4 separate regions of the Homo sapiens genome follow, and all the other regions are linked to region 1. Evidence: fine-mapped QTL for protein levels in blood plasma. A gene starts in region 1. Each other region holds a variant in brackets. All regions are shown on one strand. Distances are from middle to middle.

Evidence for each region. PIP is the posterior inclusion probability: the model's chance that the variant is causal. Protein levels are from antibody-based Olink assays in UK Biobank. Linkage for the fine-mapping came from a reference panel and not from the study's own genotypes, which makes the PIPs less certain.
Region 2: its variant is fine-mapped to the plasma level of the ACP6 protein (UK Biobank, PIP above 0.99).
Region 3: its variant is fine-mapped to the plasma level of the ACP6 protein (UK Biobank, PIP 0.98).
Region 4: its variant is fine-mapped to the plasma level of the ACP6 protein (UK Biobank, PIP above 0.99).

Annotation. Positions count from the first base shown.
Region 1 is chr1:147,669,023-147,671,704 of GRCh38, reverse strand. ACP6 (acid phosphatase 6, lysophosphatidic) reads left to right here and starts at 1,181. Exons shown (of 10, transcript NM_016361.5): 1 at 1,181-1,875. The coding sequence starts at 1,657. RefSeq lists enhancers at 719-788, 1,229-1,478, 2,119-2,178, 1,390-2,333.
Region 2 is chr1:150,015,639-150,018,320 of GRCh38, reverse strand. The region is part of intron 1 of LOC124904413 (a long non-coding RNA gene); the gene reads right to left. It also overlaps a transcript of OTUD7B not described here. Among named protein-coding and RNA genes, the nearest start is that of OTUD7B, 6.3 kb to the right of the region's middle. RefSeq lists enhancers at 1-530, 531-1,190. The variant T/A (reference allele first, on the strand shown) is at 1,083.
Region 3 is chr1:151,541,818-151,544,499 of GRCh38, reverse strand. The region is part of intron 1 of TUFT1 (tuftelin 1); the gene reads right to left. Among named protein-coding and RNA genes, the nearest start is that of MIR554, 2.6 kb to the left of the region's middle. The variant C/GC (reference allele first, on the strand shown) is at 701.
Region 4 is chr1:149,907,822-149,910,503 of GRCh38, reverse strand. SV2A (synaptic vesicle glycoprotein 2A) reads left to right here. Exons shown (of 13, transcript NM_014849.5): 6 at 614-703; 7 at 933-1,043; 8 at 1,224-1,312; 9 at 2,298-2,462; 10 at 2,671-2,682. Among named protein-coding and RNA genes, the nearest start is that of SV2A, 8.7 kb to the left of the region's middle. RefSeq lists an enhancer at 1-327. The variant T/C (reference allele first, on the strand shown) is at 1,193.

The DNA.
Region 1 (2,682 bases):
TGTTCCAAAATGACCCTCCTCCCTGCATCAGGGAGGGGAGCACTCAGAACCTTCCAGCTTGGTGAACAGAATTTGTTCTCAGGCCAGGAGCCATGCTCTGTAAGTATGTTGTCTTTACATCTGGCCCAGTTTGATCTTTGGAGATAGACACATAGTGGGTCCCAGATTGTGTCCTGTTGCAAAGATCTGGAAACACAGGCTTGGGATACCTGTATATCAACAGAAACCAGACTAGCAGGTGGTAAGGCTGGCATTGTTCTGTGTTCTTAGGTTTTTTTTTGTTTTTTTTTTGTAGACGGAGTCTTGCGCTGTTGCCCAAGCTGGAGTCGTGTGGCGCGATCTCGGCTCACTGCAAGCTCCGCCTCCCGGGTTCACGCCATTCTCCTGCCTCAGCCTCCTGAGTAGCTGGGACTACAGGTGCCCGCCACCACGCCTGGCTAATTTTTTTTTTTTTTTTTTTTTGTATTTTTAGTAGAGACGTGGTTTCACCGTGTTAGCCAGGATGGTCTCGATCTCCTGACCTCATGATCTACCCGCCTCGGCCTCCCAAAGTGCTGGGATTACAGGCGTGAGCCATGGCGCCTCTTAGGTTCTTAATCACTGGGACACCCACAGGCAAGGCCTGGCTTTTTCCACAAGAAGTATTCTGGATGGAAGTAAACACATCAGTGACCTGAAAGTTCTACATGATTACAATGACTTAAGCTTGAGAATTTTTTTAAAAACAGAGAAGGGAGTAGTAAATGACTAAATATAAAGCACCTAGTGCTGTGTTTCGCAAATGGCAATCACTCGGCAGGTGTCTCAGCTCCTCGCTGCAGCAACCAGGCTTCCAGGACTGGAAGGAAGTCTTCTACATTCAAAACTAGACTCAAACTACTCCCCTCCACCACCCAGTTCTACTCCTGCGCTCGCGATCCTCCTGCCTGGCAAACTCCATGGCCCGACAGATTCACTACCACTCCACTGCCGGACCAGGCACGTCCGTGGGCCATCCACGCCTGGAAAACGGCTGGCTGGGCCGGAGGGGCGAGGCCCGCAGGCGAGGGGGGCGGGTACAAGCCACTTCTTGGGAGCCGCGGTACGCGCAGCCTTGTGGGAGTTGTAGTTTCCGCAGCTCTGAGTCTCCAGGCGAGGTGTCACCACAGGACTCGTTTTCCCGTGCTCCTGTGCGCGGGTCCACTTGGGACGGGTCCCTGAGTAGGTGAGGAGGTGGGTAGGAGCTTGCTTATAGAAAAGTGGAATCGAGTAGTCCTTGCTGGTGGAGCCGCTGCCGCCAGGGAACTCAGGGCCGGCTCCTGTTCCTTCAAGAGTGCTGGAGGCCAAACTTGAAATACAAGTTTAATGTTCCTCGTCGGGCAAAAGATAAGGATCCGATCTCCCCCGGCCCGGTGTGCAGCAGGAGCGACCAACCCCGACCCGGGTTAAAACTCCCAGGGACTCTTCGCTGCTGCCACCTCTTGTTCTCTCCCCCGTTCCCACTCGGGGTCTCCCTCAGGGCCGGGAGGCACAGCGGTCCCTGCTTGCTGAAGGGCTGGATGTACGCATCCGCAGGTTCCCGCGGACTTGGGGGCGCCCGCTGAGCCCCGGCGCCCGCAGAAGACTTGTGTTTGCCTCCTGCAGCCTCAACCCGGAGGGCAGCGAGGGCCTACCACCATGATCACTGGTGTGTTCAGCATGCGCTTGTGGACCCCAGTGGGCGTCCTGACCTCGCTGGCGTACTGCCTGCACCAGCGGCGGGTGGCCCTGGCCGAGCTGCAGGAGGCCGATGGCCAGTGTCCGGTCGACCGCAGCCTGCTGAAGTTGAAAATGGTGCAGGTCGTGTTTCGACACGGGGCTCGGAGTCCTCTCAAGCCGCTCCCGCTGGAGGAGCAGGTGAGAGGTCGGCCCGGGCTGGGGCTGGTGGGGCGAGGACCGTGTGCCAGGCCAGGAGTCTCGCCCTGACACACATCTTCAGAGCTTTACTCGCGCGGAGCGGGGCTCGGGTTGGGTCCAGAAGAAGGGAAAACAGCAGTAGCCAGTGACTCCCCAGGCTCTTGAGCAAAGGACCTGCTGGGGTTAGGACAGCCCCGGAACTTCCAGTTTTGCCCTGATGGCGCAGCCATCAGTAAGCGCTGCTTAAGACGCATGGGAGTCGCCTGGGGATCCTGCTACGTTGCAGATTCTGATTCAGCAGGTGTGGAGTAGTGCCCCAGGTCAGCATTTCTATTAAGGGTCTAGGTGAACTTGAATACAAGGGTGCAGTGCACTTCTGTGTGACCATTTTGAAGGTGGTTTGTCAGAGCTGAAGGGCTGAAGGGACTTTAGTGATAGGAACCACTCTTAACTGAGATTACAGTGGATAAGAGGTCGTTGCCTTTGGAAACAAACTTTATAACTGCTTTTTCTCAGGGTTTGCTGGAGGCCATTTGAGATCTCCTGAAGTTTTTTTTTGTAACAAGTGTTGTATTCTAGGGTTCTCCTTTTCTATTTAAGGTTACTAAACCTATAGTGGGAGGGATCTGAGGTCGGAACAAATTTAAAATGGGCTAGTCTGTGGCAGTAATGTTTTAAAAATCTGTCTGGTTTTGTCAGGATAATTATGACTAAAGCACAAATAGTTTAAAAAAAAATGATTATCTTTCCTGGATGTGACTTTTTATAGCAGAAAGGCCTAGTGAAGAGGAACAGGCAACCTGAAAT
Region 2 (2,682 bases), 2.3 Mb before region 1:
TTGGCCCCTCAGTTTCCCTTCCTCTTTCCTGCTATAGGCAGTGTTTTATTTTTAAACGTGCCTCAGTTCTTATATTTTTCCCTTGGGTGCTTCTAGAGTACTTTACTCGTATCCATGGATCCCTTCGTAGGTTTTGGTCTTGTTTCACTAATTTCTTTGGACCTCAGGATTTTATCTCTTTTTAAACTAGGAAGGTTACCTACGTAATGGTGACACTTTTCAATTCTAAATTTTTTTCCAACTGAAAATAATGACTTCCATTGACATCTCTATGGTTGTTGCTATGCTTTGCAGGCTCGTCCATAGACCATAAGCAACATGGGAACAGCCACAGTGCTGATCAGGACAGTAATATGGAAATGGAGGGCACGTCAGTGAGAGATTCTAGTAGATGCCAATTAGATATAGTCACTGAACCCCAAAGCTCCCTGATGTGGGGAGAAAAAGCATGTCTTTATAATTTAGGAAATGTTCTTAGTATGTGGTACCTGTTGAGGTCAACCTGGGCCATTAGTCACAAAGAAAAAAGGGGAGTTAATGACAGTGTCAAGTAAATGCCCCAAAGCAATAACCAGAGCCTGATGTAGTGTCAATCTTCTATCCCCTGAATGCTCTGTCAGTTTCCAGTAGCCTGAGTTTGGCCTCCCTCCTAGTGCTGACCTAGTCAGGGGCAGAGTGACTTTGTCATTCCATTCCCAGGCCTCTCCTCATTGCCTGAGCTAAAGTGTTGGTAGTCTTAAGTACATGCTTCCTCCAAGCCTGGGGTGTGTCACCTGTGAGGTGGAGATTAAGCTGACCCACCTGACCTGCATTCCAATTAGGTAAGGTAGCACTTGCTCTCCTCATAGCCTAAGGAACTGGCTTCTTTTCTCTACCTACTTGTTGCTAGGCCTGTAATGGCCTTAGAAGCCCATTCTTACATCCTCAGGGGATTTGTCAGGACCATACTAGAAACACACCCAATCTTGCCAAGGGCCCTTTTTTAATCTCTTAACCCAGCTCTCCTGGGAAACTGTTACTTGCAATAATTGGGAGCTGATAAATCTTATTTACAATAAAGCACCTCCAGTGATTTTAGGGCC[T/A]GGAGGCAGGGATTTTCTTCTTAGGAGTTCTCCTAATGCCTAATCCTAGGAACACTTTAGGGAGTGCAGGAAGGTAAGATGGTGTCACTAAACTCCTCTCTTTTGACATTTTTATTATTGCTAAGTATTTTTCATTAATTGATTAAGCGGTTCACTTATGAGCAAATACTTGTGAAAATTAACAATTCAAGGCAATTGCTAAATTCCAGTTGACTGATAAACACATTTATAGTTTAGGATTTAACACAAAGACTTTAAAAGGAGGTGATACAGATTGGGCCTTGAACTCTCTCCAGAGAGAAAACTTAGAGACAGGGGAGACAGTTGGGTGGTAACATGGTGGTTTGCTGGAGTTAGCTCAAGCTGTCTCTTACTGACTTGCTAGAGCCGACTGCACATTTCCCAGCTCCTTGTTCAGCAACATCACATTGGTAGCATGAACTTATCAGTGGTAGAAATATTTGCACCATGAAAATTAGTAACTGCTGGCTGGGCATGGTGGCTTACTCCTGTAATCTCAGCACTTTGGGAGGCCAAGGCGGGTGGATCACCTGAGGTCAGGAGTTCAAGACCAGCCTGGTCAACATGGTGAAACCCCGTGTCTACTAAAAATACAAAATTAGCCAGGCGTGGTGGTGGGTGCCTCTAATCCCAGCTACTCAGGAGGCTGGGGCAGGAGAAGTTTGAACCCGGGAGGCAGAGGTTGCAGTGAGCCAGGATTGTGCCACTGCACTCCAGCCTTGGCGACAAAAGCGAGACTCTGTCTCAAAAAAAAAAAAAAAAAAAGAAAAAGAAAAGAGAAAGAAAATTAGTAAATGTTACAAATCAGGGCTTTTTCACCCTGGAGAACCGGTTGTTAATATTTACTAGCACACCACTGGTGGTCAAGGAAGTAGAACACAAATGTAGAAATGGAAATGTAGAAATGGAGTTAAGACCAGGCTGGGTTCCCTCTTACAAAGGAGATTAAGGAATTTTCAGTTTATCCATTGACACTGAGGTATTGTTGATGACATTTTACTCGTTGGGATTATTTTGGTTACAAGCAATAGAAAGACTAAATTTGAAATGGCTCAAAAAATAAGAAAGATGCATTTATCCCATATAACAAGAATTTCAAGTTGGACCACTCTGGGATAGGTTAATTCAGCAGGGCACCAAAGACCCAGATTCTTTTAATATTTTTGCTCTGTCATCCTCAGTATGTCAGTCTGGCCTCTGACCAGCACAACATTTCCAAATCCAACAACTTTCAGCAGCAGAGGAAAATAATTTATTCTTTCTTTTCATCTCTTTGTAAGAGCAAAGAAGACTTTCCCAAAAGCCTCCAGCGGATTTTCTCACATCTCGAATTGGTCAGAACTCTATCACATGCCTAGATCAAGCACTGGCAAGGGGAAGGGAGCCCCATGATCCATTAGTGTTTCACCCGTGTTCCTCCCACTCAGCCCCCGCCCCCTCTACTGAGGCCAATCTCCCCTGAAGCCATGTACAGCAGGCTGGTTACTTGAACCTAATCAAGGTTCTATAGGCATGGAGGAAGAAGGAGGATGGACATTGGTTAAGCAACCAACATGTTTGCTAGAGTTTTTGAAAAGAG
Region 3 (2,682 bases), 3.9 Mb before region 1:
CATGATGAAACCCCATCTCTAGTAAAAGTACAAAAATTAGCTGGGCATGGTGGCCCATGCCTGTAATCCCAGCTACTCGGGAGGCTGAGGCAGGAGAATTGCTTGAACCAGGGAGATGGAGGTTGCAGTGAGCCAAGATTGTGCCACCGCACCCCAGCCTGGGTGACAGAGTGAGACTCCATCCTCCCCCTCCCACCGCCCAAAAAAAAGGTGATTTAAGGCCAGGTGCAGTGGTGCACACCTGTAATCCCAGCACTTTGAGAGGCCGAGGCAGGAAGATTACTTTAAACCAGGAGTTCAAGACTAGCCTGGGCAACATAGTGAGAACCCATATCTACGAAAAATGAAAAATTAGCTAAACATGTTGAGTATGCCTGTGGTCCCAGCTACTTGGGAGGCTGAGGTGAAAGGATCCCTTGAGTCCAGGAGTTCAAGGCTGCAGTGAGCTATGATCACACCACTGCACTCCAGCCTGGGCAACAGAGTGAGACCCTGTCTCAAAAAAAAAAAAAAAAGTGATTTAAAGAAGGATGGAAAGAAGGAAGAGAGGGAAGGAGGGAAATGAAATCAGAGATCATCCATGGTAAAGTCTAATGTCATAGACATCTGTTCTTTTGCCACGCAGCTTCCATTCCCCTCCACTGATAACAACACTTGGGTCTTTGGAGAATCTCCTTCCATCACTGTAATCTGGGGGGGG[C/GC]CTATCAGTCAAGGAACCCTGTCCTGCTCTGGACAACTGGGGGCCAAGGGACAATGGTACTCTCTCCCTGGAATCTTGAGCATAATGGTGCAGAGACCTAAAACAGCTGGAACCAATTCACCAATAGTAGTAAGCCTCCATCGTTCCACTTACCCAGGCCCCAGAACATCCTTGGTTAGGGCTTTCTAAGCTTTCCCTTAAATTCTGTGAACTGCTCTATTTCCTTCTAATAATTTCCTCATCTGCTTAGTTTAGCTGGAGTCATTCTCTGTTGTTTATAACCAAAGGAAGTTAATGGAAATATCTAGTAAAAAGGAGTTTGGTGTTTATTTGTTCTTTTATTTGCCAATATAACTTACCACAGTGGCTTGCAAAACTTTTCAATCTCAAAAACATATTTCACATCAAGACCCAGTAAACAAACACGTACATATATAATACACACACACACACACACACACACACACACACATATATATATAACTGAAATAAAAGTTCTACCAAAAATGTCTATCCTCACTAACACTCTAAGAGTGTTAATTCTATTTCTTTTTTAATACTGGTCTGACCTACTAAGTTGATCTCAGACCCACTACTGGTTATGGTCTGCAGTTCTGAAAAACACTGGCTCCTTGTACCTGCTGCATCTGCCTCCAACAATAAAAACATCCCAGAGAGTGTATTGGCCCTATGTCCATGTCCACATGTGATACGCTAAGGCACACTGCCTGGCTAGTGGGGAAACACCAACAGAGTCCCAGGGCCCTCACTCCCAGTAGGATCTCTAATCAGTTCAACTGTCTACATTCTGACTCCGGAAGAAACATCTGTTCATTTATTTATTGACTCACTTTGCACATGAATTGAGCACCCATTCAGTGGTGTGAATATATGACAGATTCCTGGGGGTTGTCCAGAGCCATAAATTCTGTCTGCAAGTTGGCTCAGAGAAGAGGAATCCAGGACAAGGCCTGTGTCCCGACTGTTCACCATCTCCTCCCCTCCCTTAAGGGCCCAGGAATGTCTCCAAGATCAGATCTGGGCAATGATTACTTCATTCCCAGCTCTGGAGTAAAATAAGTCTCAAGTTCAGCCTAGAAAAAAGGAATAAAAGGGAATTTCTGTCTCTCCCTTGCTCTAGAGGTCTCTGGTTAGCTTCAAACTAACCTATGATGGAGACCATCTGAATTCCTTGTCCATTATTTTCTCTTAGTAATTTTTTCTGCCCCACCAGACAAAGAGCAAAAACATCAAGAAAGAGTAAAAGGGGCCAGATGTAGTGGCTCATGCCTGTAATCCCAAGCCTTTGGGAGGCCAAGGTGGGCAGACTGCTTGAGCCCAGGAGTTCGAGACTAGCCTGGGCAACATGGTGAAATCCCATCTCTACCAACAGAAAAAAAAAAAAAAAATTTTAGTCAGGTGTGGTGGCATGTGCCTACAGTCTCAGCTACTTGGGGAGACTGAGGTAGGAGGATCTACTGAAACCAGGAGGTGGAGGTTGCAGTGAGCTGAGATCATGCCATTGCACTCCAGCCTGGGCAACAGAGCAAGGCCCTGTCTCAAAAAAAGAGAAAAGAAAAGAGAAAAGAAAAGAAAGGAAGAAAGAAAAAAAATAGTAGAGGTTAATGATTCATTAACACTGCCAGTGCCAACTTGGTCTTAGACTTCTTTCCGGATCTCTTTTCTATATAGCAAGCAAGCAAAAAGCAGCCCAAACATCCCTCTCCTTTATTTATCTCATACCCTTTTCCCTCAACTATTCCAAAAGAGAGAGCAAGAGCATGGAAGAGAAGCTATAGGTGGTGTGCATCTGAAGTCCCAGCTACTCAGGAGGCTGAGGCAGAAGGATTGAGGCCAGGAGTTCAAGGCTGTGGTGTGCTATGATTGCACCCGTGAAGAGCCACTGTACTGCAGCTCCGGCAACATAGCAAGACACTCGTCGCTTAAAAACAAAGAGCAGGGAGTAGGACTTGTGGCTGACA
Region 4 (2,682 bases), 2.2 Mb before region 1:
CTTCTGTGTTCAAACACCAACTGGAGTTTGATTTGATCCTGTTTGACTGCCTGCCTTCCTCACAGAGTCCACTCTCCAGGGGACTTTATCTTGCATTCTTTGCCTTGGAATGTGTCCCTGAGGGGTTCTTGGGTGGAGAAACCAGGGGACCTCTTTACCCATGGATGACTTAAGATTTTGCAGGGAAGGGCCTTGGCCCTGTCCTGCATTTACAGCTCAAGAGACATTCCCACCCCCTATACCTTCCCCTCCTAACCCCAGCAGGATTAGGTCTTTGACTACATGCTTGCCCATCATTTCCCTTACCTTTGGTTTTTACATTCCTCTGTACTATGGAATTCCCAAGACCTGTGCTTGCCTTTTTCCCCTGGACAACACTCCCCACCCCCAACCCGCAGCTCTTGCCCAAGTCTGATTGTCTTGCTATACCTCAGCTTGGGGCTCTTTCAGAGTGGTGAGTGCATGCCCATAGGTCAGGGCTTGGTGGTGGGGTTGAGGGCTGGGAACCATTTAGTGTCCTGTGACTACAGAAGCCAGGTGGGAGGGAGGGGGTCTATAACTCTGGGTCAGGTAGGGGCTGACTTGGATGTGGGGATTGTGTCTTTGGCTCTAGAATGGAAAGCATGATGAGGCCTGGATGGTGCTGAAGCAGGTCCATGATACCAACATGCGAGCCAAAGGACATCCTGAGCGAGTGTTCTCAGTAAGCCACAGCCCTCCCGACTCAGACCTCCACGCCCTGCAGCCCCAGCCCCTACCTGGCCCCTCTCTGAGTACCCCCCACCTCAGACCACACTCTACCGTAAGGAGATTTTCAGGGTATCATATCCACCTCCTGCCTCCCATTTTGCTAATGCAGGGGAAACTGAGGCGCCTGGCCGATGTTGGGAAACACAGAGTGTGTGACTGCCCACCCCTTCTCTTGACCCCAGGTAACCCACATTAAGACGATTCATCAGGAGGATGAATTGATTGAGATCCAGTCGGACACAGGGACCTGGTACCAGCGCTGGGGGGTCCGGGCCTTGAGCCTAGGGGGGCAGGTAATGGTGGACGGGGTGGTAGATAGAAGGGAGTGGGGGAAGTGGAGAAGAAGGCAGGACTGAAGTCTATGTGTGTGGGTGATGGGTGAGCTGAAGGGAGGTGGGAGGGCAGAAAAGTGGGGATCTATGGGTGCTAGAACTTAGTATAG[T/C]CAAGGTCTGACTTTGTCTGGTCCCCTGTAGGTTTGGGGGAATTTTCTCTCCTGTTTTGGTCCCGAATATCGGCGCATCACTCTGATGATGATGGGTGTGTGGTTCACCATGTCATTCAGGTGAGGAGATGGGTGGGCTGGGTGATGTGTGGTGGTTGTGGTGGTGTGTGGGCTGGGAGAGAGGTGGGGAGAATGGAGATGCAGGGGACAAGCGATGAGGGAAGGTGCCATGCAGACCCCCTCTGATCCTGCAGCCAGCTCCTCTACTTCGCTAGTTCACTCAACAAACTTGTACTGTAGGCTGACCAGGATTCAGTTTCTATTCTGTGCTGGGATGAAACAGATGTGGTCCAAGGTCCTCCTGGAGTTTATGTTTTGGTTAAGAAGCAGGACGATGAGGCTCGTAATCCCAGCACTTTGGGAGGACGAGGCGGGCGGATCATGAGGTTAGGAGATCGAGACCATCCTGGCTACGGTGAAACCCCGTCTCTACTAACATACAAAAAATTAGCCGGGCATGGTGGTGGGCGCCTGTAGTCCCAGCTACTCTGGAGGCTGAGGCAGGAGAATGGTGTGAATCCGGGAGGCAGAGGTTGCAGTGAGTCGAGATCGCGCCACTGCACTCCAGCCTGGGTGACAGAGCGAGACTCCGTCTCAAAAGAAAAAAAAGAAGTGAGACGAAACTTGCTATGAAGCAGGGTGATGAGAGAAGGGTGGGGGAAGGGCAGTGGGAGCACTTGGGGCTTGGGCTGGGGTGGGGACCTAAGTCCTCAAAGGTGAATGGGAGTCAGACAGGTGGAGTGGGGGTGGCTGGGGTGGAGAAGAGTGTTTTTGGCAGAGGGAAAAGCAAATGCTTGGGAGGTAAGAAAAAGTATAGTGGCTGCTGTGCGAGACCCTGAAGTCCCCCAGGAGCGCAGCAACTGTTGAAGGGAGGAGCAGGGAGAAGCTGGTGAGGCTGGAGAGGAGCAAGGTCCTAACAGAGGTTGACTCCATTTCTCCCTTGTTCTGAGATGATACACATTTCCGTTTTCTCCTCTGCCTGATTCTAATCTCTGAGCCTTGTCTGAAGCCCTGTTGTCTGTTTCCATTGTCCTTGACTCTTCAGCTACTATGGCCTGACCGTCTGGTTTCCTGACATGATCCGCCATCTCCAGGCAGTGGACTACGCATCCCGCACCAAAGTGTTCCCCGGGGAGCGCGTAGAGCATGTAACTTTTAACTTCACGTTGGAGAATCAGATCCACCGAGGCGGGCAGTACTTCAATGACAAGTATGTGGGGACTTTTAAACTTCACTTCTTCCCTGTTCCTTCTACCTCGTCTCTTTTATGAGTCTAGGGGTTCAAGACAAGACATTTGGGGGGCAAACACTTGTGGTTTCTTCTCAATGCCCAGCTTCCCATTACTTCGCTAAAGAGTGAGTCTTGGAGGGGGCATGAGGATGACGGGGGAGTGTCTTTCACCATCCTGGCCTTACAGGTTCATTGGGCT